Regions from separate parts of the Homo sapiens genome. Here region 1 is linked to region 2. The links come from fine-mapping of genetic effects on gene expression. Tissue or cell type: whole blood. Region 2 holds a variant in brackets; the other region holds the start of a gene. All regions are shown on one strand. Distances are from middle to middle.

Region 1 (8,107 bases), 100 kb before region 2:
TTAACAACGTGGCACAACCTAAGCACCCTTTTCATGGGACAGGGATGTACAAGACTTAGAGAGATGCTAGCTCAGAGCGGTCACTTTTCTTCTTAGCAGGTCCCTCAGCTAATACCAGTCATCCCATCAAATTTCTTTTTTCTTACATGTTTAACTTAAATTTTTCTTGGAATTAAAAACATTTAGGATTTTTTAAAATATTGATTTAAGTTATTAAAAGCTATGTTCCTGGTTGCATGAAGAAAGAAATCCCAGTAAGTTTAAATATATATATTTTAATAAATGTGTGTATATACAGATATATTTAAATAAAAAAATTTAAGTAAAAAATATAAAGATATATTTAAATAAAAATATACATTTAAGTAAAAAACAAATATATATTTAAATAAAAATGTAAATATATATTTAAATAAAAATGTAAATATATTTAAATAAAAATATAAAGATATATTTAAATAAATATATTTACATATTTATTAAATTTATTAAATTACATAATTTAATGAATAATTTATTAAATATCAAATATTTTGAATAACATATTTAAGTAAATAAATATTGTTTACTTAAATATATACATATATATAAAAAATATATATATTTTTTGAGACGGAGTCTCGCTCTGTCGCCCAGGCTGTAGTGCAGTGGCGTGATCTCGGCTCACTGCAAGCTCCGCCTCCCGGGTTCACACCATTCTCCTGCCTCAGCCTCCCAAGTAGCTGGGACTACAGGCGCCTGCCACCACTCCCAGCTAATTTTTTGTATTTTTAGTAGAGACGGGGTTTCACCGTGTTAGCCAGGATGGTCTCGATCTCCTGACCTTGTGATCTGCCCACCTCAGCCTCCCAAAGTGCTGGGATTACAGGCGTGAGCCACCGCGCCCAAGCAATCCAGCTTTTGTTGATTTCAATTTTAGGCTTTATTACCAAGTTGACCTGTTAGATGACAATGGGTGCTTCCCACATGCACCCACCTTGAGGACAAGGACAACAGTAGCCCATCTGGGAGGAGGCAAGGAGGTTGGGCCTGAGGATCAGAGTGAGAAACCCTCACAGAGCTGGGTAGGAAAACCAGCAACTCCTTTCTTATGGGTAGATTCTGCCAACCCTTTTACTTCTTTTACAGGACTTGGAGATTATTTCTGATTACTTAAGAAATGTTATTTTTTTTAATCCTAAGAAACATTTTAGAGTGAAAATTGGTCTAATGTCTCAGCCCATTCCAGGTGCTTTAAGCTCAGTGTAGTGTGGCATGTGTGAGGCCACGGGTGTGAGTATAATAACCGCTGTCGCTGGGACAGAGATGCTGTCCAAACTTAAATCATCCATCTTCTTTCCTTTTCTTTCCTTTTCTTTTCTTCTTTTTCTTTTCTTTCTTTTCTTTTCTTTTCTTCTTTTCTTTTTCTTTCTTTTTTCTTTTTTTTTGAGATGGAATTTCACTCTTGTCACCCAAGCTGGAGTGCAATGGCGTGATCTCAGCTCACTGCAACCTCTCCCTCCCAGGTTCAAGCGATTCTCCTGCCTCAGCCTCCCGAGTAGCTGGGATTACAGGCAAGCGCCACCAAGCCTGGCTAATTTTTGTATTTTTAGTAGAGATGGGGTTTCACCATGTTGGCCAGTCTGGTCTCGAACTCCTAACCTCAAGTCCAGGAGTCCCAAAATGCTGGGATTACAGGCATGAGCCACCACACCTAGCCCATCCATCTTATTTTCTTTTTTTTTTTTTTTTTTTTGAGATGGAGTCTCGCTCTGTCACCCAGGCTGGAGTGCAGTGGCACGGTATCGGCTCACTGTGAGCTCCGCCTCCCGGGTTCACGCCATTCTCCCTCCTCAGCCTCCCAAGTAGCTGGGACTACAGGCGCCCGCCACCACGCCCAGCTAATTTTTTGTATTTTTAGTAGAGACGGGGTTTCACCATTCACAGGATGGTCTCGATCTCCTGACCTCGTGATCCACCCGCCTTGGCCTCCCAAAGTGCTGGGATTACAGGCATGAGCCACTGCACCTGGCCCATCCATCTTATTTTCTTTTCTTCTCCTCTTCCTCCTTCTTTAGTGAAATCAACTTATATGAAATGAAAATGCAAACTACCAAACCTGCCTTTTCCCATACAAAACAACAAAATTTGATGATTAAATGAACTAAAGTAGTGAATTTCTTCTTGCTCAATTAATTACAAGGCTTTGACTTAAAACAATTTTTTATATTTTCATAATAAATTTCAGAGGAGAGATTTCTTATGTACTTCTAATGTGACTCTACACATATATTTAGAGAAACCTCAAGTTGTCCATTGCAGTTTTTTTCACTCTCAGTAACTGGCCAGGTTGTGGCCTAAGCCTTCGTTAGCCCTGGTTGATATTTAGTCCCGGCTAAATTTGTTTGCTGCTCATCCCTAGGAGTAAGCCACATGTTTGTAGAATGGATGTTTCATCTTGTAGGAAATACCTGTGAATATGCCAATATCCCAGAGTGGATGAAATGGGCAATGGGGAGCCCTGCTCCACTTTACAAAAAGAAAGGAAAAGAAAAGATCCCTTCGCCGATATATATTGATTTGCTGCAGAAAATGCAATGGGGCATGGGAATGAATAGTCACTCTTGCCCTGTTTCTATCCTGTGCAGGTCCCACCACGTTGAGGTGGGTAGAGATGCTTACACACACACACATACAGGCCTGGAGCCAAAGTCAGGGCCGGCTTTAATGAACTGTACACATATGTTGTGGGCAGCCGCTGATTTAATATGTACAACCATGGTGTGTGCACACACCTGGATAGGCACACTGCTCTGGGAATCACACAGGGTCTCCTGAACAATGATGCTATTGTAATATTTCTTTTTGTTTTATTTGTCCAAAGTCAAACATTCACTCTGTCAGATCACCAGTGTCTTATAAGCCTGGTGTTGGCCCACACTGCTGCAGGATTGGGACAAAGAGACGATGTTACAGTCTGGTTTCTATGGCAACAGAGGAGGGGTAATGAAAACTGAAATGTTGGAAACACCCATTCTAACCATTGTGACATAATTCAGGTTATTACAAGGATGTAACTACCAAAGAAGCAGAAGTGTCATTACCTTGCAGCTCATGTCGACAAAAAGCTACACTGCACATTTCTCTTAGGCTGCTAAGAGGAAGGAAACACAAAACACACACACACACACACACACACACACACACACACACACACACACACACACACAGAGGCCTCGTTTTCTGCATGTAAAATGTGTGTGTTCTTTAAAAGCCAGTGGTTGGCTGGTTTTCCGGACATGATGTGGTTGAAGCTGTCATCGTAATGGAAATTCATTGCTGTAGCTATGGTAAATCGAGTTTTCTGCCTGTGCTGAATGCATTAGTCTAATGAGATGTTTGCAGCTGGAGCGCAGGGCTGCTGGAGACTAACTGTGAGCTACTAACACGGGTGGAAGATAGCTTTTGCAATACTCGGTTTGCATGTGCTGAAAGTCATCTGTCTTCTGAGTCAACACTCCCGACCTGGTAAACAACCTGCTCAGGGCTCTGGTGAACAAGCTGTAGGTAAGGGAGATGCACAATTGGAGGCGTGCCGTTGACACGGGATCTTTCTCTTGTAACTGTCAGCATGACAGGTTACCTGTTTCAGTTTTTTCTGGGTTGCATGCCTACCTCTATGGCAACGCACAAGAGTGTCCTGCACTAAAACCACTGAGTCCAGTAGGTAAACTTTAGTTCCTCATATGCAAAGTACAGCATTTAATTTATTAACCAGATCTCAGAGGGGAAAATGTAACATTGAATTATATAGTTTATAAATTTGGGCTATATACATGTTCATTACTCTTTAACTCTGCATTTAAATACCTAGAAAGTTATTTTTTTCCAAATGTGAACTCAAGTAACCGGTTAGTTATTTTTTCCCTTCACGATAATTTTGCTTTGTTTTGCTTTTTAATTTTAAAAAAATTGTACTATGTCTTGGGATAAAAATATTTACCTAAAATTTGGTTATTAAAATTGGTATGTTATGAACATGTAAAAGTGTTTTTTTTCCCATTTAATTTTATTTCAAATATCCCAGGTAGAATATTTCACATGTCTTTGTGCTGGTTTTTCCTAATTTATGAGGCATAAATAAGAATAATATTTACTGCTAGTTTCTGGTTTTAATTCGTTTTTTGGGAAAAAAACTGGTGACTATGGAGTATTAGCGGCAGTTTTCCCAAGCTCAAAATCACCTCCTTCCCAGGTGGAGCACTGTGACTTGAACCAGCTTCCACGTGCTCCTCCCAAAGCATGAGGGGTCCTCTCCAGGTTGATTGCTGGCTGGACAGGAGCGGTGGATGAGGCCAGGGTGCAGGCTGCTGAGCTGTTTTGCTGAGTTGAGGTGCTTGAGTCAAAGTTCTTTCCACTATCTGTGATCGTGAACGAGAGGTGTCTCCTCGTGTTGTCTCTAGATTCCATGACGGTACTCATGAGGGTTAGACAATCAGTGGCTTTCTGAGAAAGTGGTTTTTTACTGATCTCAGACACTACAGTACTTGAGAAAGTAATCCAGGCACTTCAGAATCAGGGTATTTGTTATATGCTGTTTTTCTTTCTTTTCAACCAGAGGAACCATTTTTGAAGAATGAGGGATATAGCTGCTTTTTTTCTCCACTTTTTTTTTTTTAAAGCAAAATAGAATATCTGGAGTGAAAGCATAAAAATAACTACAAAGGAATTCTTAGTGTGTTAAACTATCTGGGGGGTATAATATTTGTGTGGAGCATTTTTTGTGTTGCTTGGTAGAACTAGTCTGATAAAATGAGGGGCTGTTTGAGCAACAGCAGCTGGGTGAAGATTACCTAGAAAATCGGTACTGCGTGATCGTCTAAACTCAAAAGGTTAATGTAGAATCTTCAGTTTTAGGGAAATTGGTGGCTTCACAAACTATAACTTTTAAACAGGCTTTTTGACAGAATTTTTAAAAAATATGAATGTGTTTTCTTTAGCTCTTTAAATTGTGTACGTAGATGAGCTCTGAAATATTTTGGTAAATTCATCAGTTTGCTTCATTTGTGGAATTATAACAAAAGTGCAAAGCCCACAAAAATCCAGTTCTTTCATGTATAACATGTTTACATTTCTTCCCTGTGTCCCCAAAATTACTTTTATTTTGCTGCAAAAAAAAAAAAAGAAAAGAAAAAAAGAAAAGAGTAAATGAACGGTAATAGAAAGACAAGAAAACAATAAGCGAAACGAGTAAGTTGCTTTTCATCATTTCTTTGCTTTTGGTGGTGTGTTTTCGAGGCGAGGGAAATCAGCAGAAGCAGTTTCACTTTCTGGTTCTTGACTCCTGGGGGTGAGGGTGAAAGGCTGTCTCCTCTAGCAAGCAGCAGGTAAGCTAAGCAGCTCAGCCCACAGAAAACAAGCCAGACCCAAATACTGTCACTTGCTGCAAGAACTTTTATAATGAGAGTTCAAAACAATATTGACTTTAAAAAAATACTCAGTAACACTTTCCTATTAAAAAATTCAAGCACTACCCCAAAGTACAAAGATAGACTTTTTTAATTTTTAAAATTTGAAATGATGAGAAAATCATCTCTGCTGTTTATGTATTTTTAATCTCAATTTTGGATCTCAAATACTTCAATACTTTTAAGGAAACATAACTGAAGTTCCCTGAAATCATAACAAGGAATGCTCGGAGAGGAATAACCTTTCTGGGAGTCTGGGGGCTTAAATGTTAGAGTGCTTCGTAGGTCTGTTTACAATTTTGTGTGGCCTGAGGACACATCACACATGTGTCCACACATCCTTTATGACACGCACCTTAAAGAACTTTTGGTCCAGGCAGAGGTGGTGGCTGGAGCTTGAAAGCCCTCACAGGGGCCCTGTTAGGGATCTGCAGGACAATTTTCCTCCCCAAGTCCCTGCCCTCGGAAACCTCAATATCACATGGGTAGATGCCAGGGAGCCGGGATGTGCCCATCCCACTCCACAAGTCCTGAAGAGCGTGGCAGGTGACACTACCCCTCATTGGGCTGGGAGCCTTAGGATACCAAGCATCTCCAGTGTCATTCTTCCCCTGAGCCCTCAGATTTTATGTGGGGATGGAATGGGAAAGAAGGGAAAGGAGATGAGAAAAGACCCTCTTTTAATCTGATTATCATGGAGCGTAAAATCTTGTCTAACATTTTGTGGATGAAGTTTGTGAAAGCAGTTGCCTTTGGTGTGATCACACAAGCTTCTTTCTTTTGGTGGGCACATCTGATGTTTCTAAGAAGGAACTTTTAAACAATGCCTCCCTAGACATCTTATTTCTTAATTCTGCCATCTCTCAAAAGGCTAGTTTTAGATTTACACATTTTTTAATGTTTTCATTGCCTTCAAAAGCAGACAGGTGAGGAGAGAAGAGGGGGATTAAATCAGCCCCTGGGAGAGACATTAAACGGCTTGGTACAGATATCATATAACAGAAGCCACCAGGGTATCTAGTAAATTACTCTAAATTTTAATTAATGAGTCACAAAAGCCACACCACAAGCTTTAAAAATTACCCTTTTATCAATAAGGTGATAATTAACTTTCTCTGGAATTAGCAGTTCTCTCAGCCCCGGGGCAGTACACAGCCTAGTAAGTTCTCTGGAATGCTGCCAATTTTTAACAATTGGTCTTTTGGCAAACCTACTGGATTTTAATTCAAACATCTATTGTGACATTTTCCAACGTGGTCCACAGACCATTAGGATCACCCAAATCGTGGTAAAATTTCTGAGGTCAAAAGAGCAGCTTGGAATGTTTGAATCGCATTTGAATATGTCACTTTCTCCTTCTTCTTCTTTTTTTTCTTTTCTACCTTTCCCCACCCCAAACTTCTGCATTTGCAAGAGCGCAGTGCTCCAGTCTGCTGTAAATCTCTACTAGAGTCTCTGCTGTAAATCGCTGTGGGGAACCCTGCATTTGTTGATACGCCCATACCAAGTCCGAACGCCCTGGCTGCCAGCCCGTGGGTTCTAAGCGTTTTTCATTGTTGCACTCGTCTTGGTTTCAATTCTGGCAAGGGCTCACTCCTTCATGTTTTTGCAAACTCTCACCCGTGGTTTGTCAAATGCTGATCTTTAGTTTGAGACTTGAAGAAGTGCTTTGGGCAAGAGGGCCATTTTGGACATGCTTACAGAGGCTTGGAATTTAGCTTCCTCTGATCTGCATATATTAATGTCTGAAGAGGCACAGACAGGAGCATTCAGCATTGCAGAGCAGCCTGCCCCACAACAGCCCTTCTCAGACATGCATACGCACACGCACACACAAACACACACCCCTCCCAGTGCGGCTGGTCACTGGTGGGTGGCATTCAGGGACAGCCTCAGGAGGGACACTGCTATTTGGGTATAGCATCTGGAGGGCAAGTGGTGATGGATGCAGATCATCCCTTCAAAAGTCAGCCTCCTCTCTTCCCTCTGGATCTTTCAAATGTTAGCATTGCTGGGCTCCTGCTTCTCTCAGCCAAGAGACGTGGCCAGGGCTGAATACCGGTGACAAGGCTTCCTGCTGGGTTAAGCAGGCAGTTCTGACACAGACAAGAACATCCCTGCCTTCAGGCGGATGGGGTGGAGACCAGCAGCAAGCTGCAATTGTGCATTCTGGAATAAATCAGCACTTAGCAATCAGGAGAAGCCCTTTGCTGCCGCGGAGGAGATAAAACACCTCTTACTTCTTGGGATGATTATTTCTTGGGCTACTATTTTAGGACAGAAAGGAATTTATTACCCAGTGGCAGTTCTCACTTTGCATTAAGCTGAAAAGTCATTCCACTCAGTCCATTTGACACTCTGAAGTAATGGGAGTAGATTTTGATATCCACATTGCATATTTCCCGGGGTGACTATTACTATACCAGTTTTACTAGTTGTGTTTTAGTCCAGTGATAAGAAACCATATAAACTCCTCTTACTCTGCCACTAACTTAGACACATGCTACCTAAATTTTCATTTGTGGGGAGGCAGATGTGCTTTTTTTTTTTTTTTTTTTGGCAGTTGCATTTTTTGATCAGATAAATGCAACCCACCATTGCTGATTTTCAAGAATGATTGCACATTCCTGCAGCCAGGCTGTCTTAGCCTTTTGAGAAAT
Region 2 (8,107 bases):
CAAATGTGTAGAAATACAATTGATTTTTGCACATTGATCTTGTATCCTACAACCTTGCTGAACTACTTACTAGTTCCAACAGTCTTTTAAGTAGATTCCTTAGGATTTCGTACACATAAGAGATAGTTGTACTTCTTCCTTCCTAATCCAGATGGCTTTTCTTTTCCTTAACCTAATTGCACTGGCTGGAACCTCTAGTACAATGTTAATAGAAGTAGCTGGAATGGACCGTCTCTTTTTGTTCCTGATCTTGGGGGACAGCATCCAGTCTTTGACCATTAGCCATGATATTACCTATTGGTTCTTTGCAGATACCCTTTGTCAGATTGAGGAAATTCCCTTCTGTCCCTAGTTTGTTGAGTGATTTTATCATAAAAGGGTATTGGATTTTGTCAAATGTTTTTCTGCATCTGTTGAGGTGATTGTGTGATCTCTGTTTTATTATTCTATCCATATGGTGTATTACATTAATTGATTTTGGAATGTTAAATCAGGCTTGCATTCCTGGGATAAATCCTACTTGGTCATGGTGTATATATCTTTTTATATGTTGCCGGGTTCAGTTTTGCCAGGTTTTTTGTTGAGGATTTCTGCATTCATATGAATACCAGATATTGGTCTATAGTTTTCTTATGATGTGTCTGTCTGGTTTTGGTATGAGGGTAATCCTGGCTTCGTAGAAGTATTTGCCATAGAAGCTGGGAAGTATTCCACCCCCTTCTATTCTTTGGAAGAATTTGTAAAGAATTAGTATTATTTTTTCTTTAAATGTTTGGTAGAATTCAACCGTGAAGTTATTCAGGCTTGGGCTTTCTTTGTGGGTAGTTTTCTGATTACTAATTCAATCTTTTTACTTCTTACAGGTCTACTCAGATTGTCTTTTTCTTCTTAAGTCAGTTTTAGTAGTTTGTTCATTTTATCTAAGTTATCTAATTTACTGGCATACAACTGTTTATAGAACAGATGGTTCCCTACTTAAGATGGTTTGACAATGATTTTTTTCACTTTATGGTGGTGTGAAAGTGATACACATTCACTGAAAACCATGCTTCAAGTATCTATACAACAATTCTGTTTTTCACTTTCAGTAAGTATTCAGTAAATTACATGAGATATTCAATACTTTATCATAAAATTGGCTTTGTGTTAGATGATTTTGTCCAACTGTAGGCTAATGTAAGTGTTCTGAGCATGTTTGAGGTCAGCTAGGCTAAACTATAATGTGTGGTAGAGTATGTATGCTAAATGCATTTTCAACTTATGATATTTTTAACTTATGATAAATTTATTGGGATATAACCCTATTGTAAGCAAAAAGCATCTGTATTTCTCAATCTTTTTCAATTTCTGTAAGGTTGGTAGTAATTTCCTCTCTTTCAGGTTTTCATTTCTGATTCTAGTAATTTGAATCATCTCTCTTTCCTTCTTTACGTTTTATTTGTTTATTTTTTTGTCAATGTAGCTAAAGGCTTGCAATTTTGTTGGTTCTTTTTCCAAAGAACAAGCTTTTGGTTTTATTGATTTCTTCTATTGTTTTTTAAAATTCTCTATTGAATTAATTTTTGCTCAAATCTTTATTATTTCCTTCTTTGCTTTTTTTTCCAGTGTCTTATGATAGAAGATTAGGTTATTCATTTGAGATCTTTCTTCCTTTAACAGAAGTATTTACAGCTGTAAATTTACCTCTAGCCACTACTTATCTGTATCACATCTTCAAAGACTTTTATTTTTAGTCAAGCTCCACATCCATCCCCAACTATGAGAAGATCTGCTAGCTTCCCTAATAAAATCAAGTCTTAATCTTCAATAATCTTCCTACATTGTGGAAGAATCCATGTATGGAGAAGACATTTGGATCTTGTGGCCTCAAATTTGTTTTTCATTGCCAATCATGGAGGATCCATTGGTTTTTGTTGTTGTTGTTGTTTTGTTTTGTTTTTATTTTTCATATTTTTGCTGATTGCATTTTCTTTGGGCATACCAAGATCTGTTTTGATGGTGTCTAATATACAGATAATTATTGCTGGGGACAGGTAGACATGATCTTGTCCTGGTGGGAGGGACTAGAATAGTTTCCTTCTTTCTATCACCGTAATTTCTCTGGACTTCCCCCACCCCCCAAAAGAAAAACTCCACATAAAAATAATAAAACAAACAAAAAACCCACCATTCGGCCACAGGTGTAGCTCACAGGGAGTTCAACAGGCTCAATGTTGAGCTTTAAAAGTATAGGACTGTAATCCCAGCACTTTGGGAGGCCGAGGCAGATGGATCACTTGAGGTCAGGAGTTTGAGACCAGCCTGGCCAACATGGTGAAACCCCATCTCTACTAAAAATACAAAAATTAGCCGGGTATGGTGCTTCCAGCTACTCGGGAGTCTGAGGCAAGAGAATCGCTTCAACCAGAGAGGTGGAGGTTGCAGTGAGCCGAGATCGCACCACTGCACTCCAGCCTGGGTGACAGACTTATTGATTAAAACTCCATCTCAAAAAAAAAAAAAAAAAGTATGATAAGTCCTGGTTTACTTAAGAGGCGCTGATGATGAGGTTGGCAGACTTTCTAAGTCCTCTCCTCCCTCTGCACTTTAGCTTGGCTCTTTAGCTCTCCTGTGAAGGGTTTGGGGAGGATTGTGGGGCTATCCAGATCAGCACTTGCATCCCTGCTTGTTAGCCGTGGCGGAGGATGGCTGCCCTCATGTGTTTGTATCAGGACTAAAGGTGTGGGGAGAAAGCACTGTGGCACCTGGGCCACCACCCAGGCCACAGTTGTCTCTCCTGACTCTGGGACATTGTGACTCTTGCTTGATCTCTCCCAGGAGTCCTGAGCCAGGTGAGGGGGGCTGTGCTGGTGGGTGAGCAAGAGCAGGGAGTACAGGGAGATTCTGAGAAGCCAGCAGAGACTGTGAGGGCAGAGCCACTGCAGAAGAAAGTCTTTGATCTTACTCTTTTTTTTTTTCTTTTTTTGAGATGGAGTTTTGCTCTGCAACCTCTGCCTCCCGGGTTCAAGCGATTCTCCTGCCTCAGCCTCCTGAGTAGCTGGGATTACAGGTGCCTGCCACCACATCCGGCTAATTTTTTGTATTTTTAGTAGAGATGGAGTTTCATCATGTTGGCCAGGCTGGTCTTGAACTCCAGACCTCAGGTGATCCACCTGCCTTGGCCTCCCAAAGTTCAGGGATTACAGACGGGAGCCACTGCACCTGGCCTGATTTGGGCTTATTAAGTCATCAATGGCCAAAATATCAATTTTCCTCTAAGCACCGAGGAGCACACCTCCTAATTCCTATTACAATATGCTCCTGTGGGCAAAGCAGCTCTCAGCCTGCTGACAGGTATGCTATTTGGAATTATGTTGTGAGGTTCATTTCTCCTCTCTGCATGCTCACAAATACTGGCTACTGTGTTGGCAGGGCAGGGTTTGCCAAGACGGAGGGTCTGATAGCTTCCTGAACTGCTCTCTGATATCTGCTTCTCTGTA[C/T]TGCCTTATTGCTTAGTCAAGACAGTCACCACCGAAGAGTACCTGGTGAACCCTGTGGGCATGAACCGCTACAGCGTGGACACCTCCGCCTCCACCTTTAACCACAGGGGCTCCTTGCACCCCTCCTCCTCGCTGTACTGCAAGAGGCAGAACTCTGGAGACAGCCACCTTGGGGGTGGTCCTGCTGCCACCGCTGGTGGTCCCCGCACTAGCCCCATGTCTTCTGGTGGCCCCTCGGCACCTGGGCTGAGGCCTCCAGCCTCCAGCCCCAAGAGAAACACGACCTCTCTTGAAGGAAACAGATGTGGTAATGTAATGCATGCATCAGCTTCCCACTGACTTAACATCCCTTGCCCTTGCGCGGGGAGCACAGCATCTGGGGAAGGGGGAGTGTGGCTGTTTAAACGTGGGACTGCTGGGAGATCAGAAATTTCCACAAGTCCTTTCATGGATCTTGAGGTTCTCAAAAACAGCCAAACTCAACCTTTGATAAGCAAAGAAAATCGTGTATTAGGGCAGGCTAGGCCACAGGATACGTAGACTCCAAAATGTACACAGGCTCAAATACCATAGAAATTTTTGTTCGAGAGCCAAAGGTGAATGTTCCTGATTCATGGATGCATCTCAATATAGGGACATAGGCTCCATCTATTTTGTGGCTCTGCCACCCTCTACAGCCTTCATGCCCCATGCATTAGGGAATAGAAAGGGAAAGAAGGTGTGGAGAAGACACAGGTGCTTCCCTGCAATCTGAAAGTGATGCTCATCACTTCCACTCACATCTCATTGGCAAAAGCTGGTCATTTTGCCACACTTAACCATAAGGGACTCTGGAAGCTGTAGGTTAGCTCTGCCCAGGAGAAAGGAGAACCAGACCTTGGTAAAGAATTGTCTCTTGCATAGGAAGTGTCACCTTCAGGATACAAATACATGAGCAGAGGCAGAGTTAGGCAAAATTCCCCCAATGCTGGTTGTAATGCCACTTCTGTCTCATCCACTAAAGAAAGCTTGTTGGAATGCAGTCTACAAAAGCGCTATAAGGGCTAAAGGATTATAGTAATAGCTTGAAGGCCCTTCTGATTGATGTTTTAAAAAATCATTTTCAAGCTTCAGTATTTTGATAGTGCCTAAAGGCCATAGAGTATAGTGGATAATCACTGGGACTAGAGCCAGACAGCCTGGGCTGAGATGCTGGATCTGCTGCTTCCTGCCTACCTTTTGCAAGTCTTAACTTACCTGTGCTTCAGTTTCCTCACCTATAAAATTGTGATAATAATAATGGCAGCACCTGCCTCATAGGATTGTTGGGAGGATTAAATGAGTTCATACATGCATTTAGTACAAGACCTAGGAGGTAACAAGAGCTCAATAAATGTTAGTAGTTACAGCATAGATCTTTTTAACACATCCCTTAACAGATCACAGCCCATCAGCTCCACAGCTGAGAACTGCTGAAGAAAGAAGGCCCCAGGCCAAGGAGTCTGGGAGTCTTCATCTTGCCACCCTGTAGCCCCTCAGTGGGCAGGCTCTGTCTTCTGTGGCAAGTCACATTTCTCCCCTGAGCCTAGGATCCTTCCACCAGTGACCCCAGCAAGCCGCACACGTGAGCTATTTTGTATGATTCAAGACCCTCCACACATTCTCTTCCAAGAGCCTCATCCAACCCAGATGAGCGTGGCCCTGACCAGCTTCCCCTGGCCAAGGATGGAGAGGTGAGAAGGGGCCCCTTGCCGGAGAGGCGTTCTGAGGGGTAGAGCGCAGATTCTCCCTCCACAGCAGCTCTTACCAAATGTAGAGATGCCCTGCAGGCCACTTTCCAACACTGTCACACAGGGCCATGAGCCAGGCAGATTAAGTGAGCAGAGCCCTATTTTCCAAAGGAGAGCAACATTGTTCCATTTGATTCCTAAGAACAAGAGAAAGGGACAAGATCTTTCACGAACCAACACTGTAAAGTAAACCAGGGGCAGCCTTGATTTCATAGGTTTGTCCCCAGTGTTAGCTTAATATCTGGCATGTGGTAGGTGTTCAATAAACATGCATCATGTCTGTGCCCTCACGGTGTCCCTTTGTCTTCTTGTCAAAACACTCATCCTTATGTCCCTCTTGAGTTTAAATGTCTTTCTCTCATCCTCTTCTCCTCAGCCCCATTCCCCTTTTCTCAGGGTGGTGATCACAGGACACCATGCTGATTGAATTGACTCATAATCCCAGAGTCCCACTTTTTAAAAAGGAGATATTTACTCTCTCTCCCACTCACGTTGGTGCAATCTCAGCCCTATGTCTTAAATGCAGGATTTCCAGCAGTAAGAGGGAGGCATGATTTGGTTGGAGAGAACTTCTATCACTCACTCAACAACAGTCTGCCCTGTTCAGTCCAACTGGTGACCCAGGGCCAGGGAATCCAGGGCTCTTCAGAGGGCTTCAGCATAGCTCCTGTCCCCCAGCCCCTCACACCTCCTTCCAGTTGAGCCCTAGGATGTCCTCCTGTCCTTCACTTTCATCCCCATACCGGCCCTTTGTTCTCCTGTGTATGAGTCTGTTCTGCTAATAAAGACATACCCGAAACTGGGTAATTTGTAAAGGAAAGACGCTTAATGGACTCACAGTTCCACATGGCTGGGGAGGCCTCACAATCATGGCAGAAGGCAAAGGGAAAGCAAAGGCACGTCTTACATGGTGACAGGTAAGAGGGCTTGTGCAAGGGAACTCCCCTTTATAAGACCATCAGATGTCGTGAGACTTACTGGCTACCACAGGAACAGAATGGGGGAACCAAACCCATGATTCAATTATCTCCAACTGGCTCCATCCTTGACACATGGGGATTATTACAATTCAAGGTGAGATTTGGGTGGGGACACAGAGCTAACTCATATCATCCTGGAATCAGGCCCTGACAGTCTGAGTAATCTTGCCAGACGACTGGCCGAGGGGCAGCCCAGACCCTTCCTCAGCCTCCAGCTCTGAGAAAGCCTCTCTGCTGGAGCCTGGTTGCACCCCAGGAGAGGCCCCCTAGCTCAGGCCCTTCTGCCTGTCAGGATCTGGGATGAGATCAGAGACACGGAGTCCACCTGTGCCTGCTGCCTTTCATCCCAAGAACATCAATACCTGAACCCTGAATCCTGGCTGTCTTTTTAATAACTTAGAAGTATTAGAACCAGCCAGGCACGATGGTTCATGCCTGCAATCCCACCACTTTGGGAGGCCAAGGCGGGTGGATCACTTGAGGTCAGGAGTTTGAGACCAGCCTGACCAACATGGTGAAACCCCGTCTCTACTAAAAATACAAAGATTAGCTGGGTGTCGTGATGCACGCCTGTAATACCAGCTACTTGAGAGGCTGAGGCAAGAGAATCGCTTGAACCCGGGAGGTGGAGGTTGCAGTGAGCAGAGATTGCGCCACTGCACTCCAGCCTGGGCAACAAAGCTAGACTCTGTCTCAAAAAATAAATAAATAAAAATAAATATTAGAGAGAACTTTGCCTGAGACCCTGAAATCCAGTTGTCCATAATCAGCAGGACCCCCACCACGGGACTGTGGGATGTTTAAAATCGCAAAGCCACCTAACCTCTTTGGAGAAAAGCTGCTATGTGATGTATCAGTTGAAGTTCACTGTTGAGCCTTTGTGATACACTGAAGAAAAATGAAATTATTCATCCTTTGTAGGTCTGTTAACACTTTAATTCTCCGAAGATTCCTTTTTTTTTTTTTTTTTGAGACAGAGTCTCGCTCTGTCACCCAGGCTGCAAGCTCTGCCTCTTGGGTTCATGCCATTCTCCTGCCTCAGCCTCCTGAGTAGCTGGGACTACAGGTGCCTGCCACCACACCTGGCTTTTTTTTTTTTTTTTTTTTTTTTTTTTTTGTATTTTTAGTAGAGACGGGGTTTCACAGTGTTAGCCAGGATGGTCTCGATCTCCTGACCTCGTGATCTGCCTGCCTCGGCCTCCCAAAGTGCTGGGACCACAGGCGTGAGCCACCCCGCCCAGCCGAAAGATTCCTTTTAACCAGTGCCTTCCTCAGGGTGCTAAATAAAACCGCAGGTACCAGAAACAGCCAGTCAGCCATGCACATTCTCAGCAGTGAGACAGAGGAAGTGGGTGGGGAGAAGACGGAAGGAAGGATAGCACCAGTGTCTCTGAAAGAGGTTTCCGTTTCTGCTTACATTTCATTGACCAAAATGTAGTCACATGGCCACTTGCTGCAAGGGATGCTGGGAAATGTGGTTTTCATTCCTAGCAACCATGATTCCAGATGGAAGTTAGGGCTGCTATTACAGAGGAAGAAGTGCAAAGTAACGCTGAGTAGGCAATGGGAAGTCTGATCAGAAATGCTCACTCCCTCCTTTTTCCTCCCATGGCACTTTGTTTCCTCATCTATAGTTCTTACTCTATCCTAGAGAAAGGAACAGACCCTCAGCTTTGTGAAGCCTCTTATTCATATTTGAACCCCCCACAGCCCTGGCAAAGGGGGGCTTGAGGCCTGTATCAGACTGTTATTTATTGAACACCTACACTCAAGGGGGCCAGACAGTTTCCGACTTATTATAAGTTATATGTTTAGGATTTAATATTTATAAAAAGGTATTGGTATATTTGATTTAAAGATAAAGAAAAAGAGGTTCAAG

What was found. PIP is the estimated chance that this variant, and not a neighbour inherited with it, causes the effect.
Region 1: SCML4 starts here. The variant in region 2 is fine-mapped to the expression of SCML4 in whole blood (TOPMed, PIP above 0.99).

What each region holds. Positions count from the first base shown.
Region 1 is chr6:107,819,565-107,827,671 of GRCh38, reverse strand. SCML4 (Scm polycomb group protein like 4) reads left to right here and starts at 3,359. Exons shown (of 8, transcript NM_198081.5): 1 at 3,359-3,546. RefSeq lists an enhancer at 5,207-5,276.
Region 2 is chr6:107,716,382-107,724,488 of GRCh38, reverse strand. It overlaps SCML4 (Scm polycomb group protein like 4), which reads left to right. Exons shown (of 8, transcript NM_198081.5): 6 at 3,496-3,786. Among named protein-coding and RNA genes, the nearest start is that of SCML4, 100 kb to the left of the region's middle. RefSeq lists a silencer at 7,564-7,713. The variant C/T (reference allele first, on the strand shown) is at 3,480.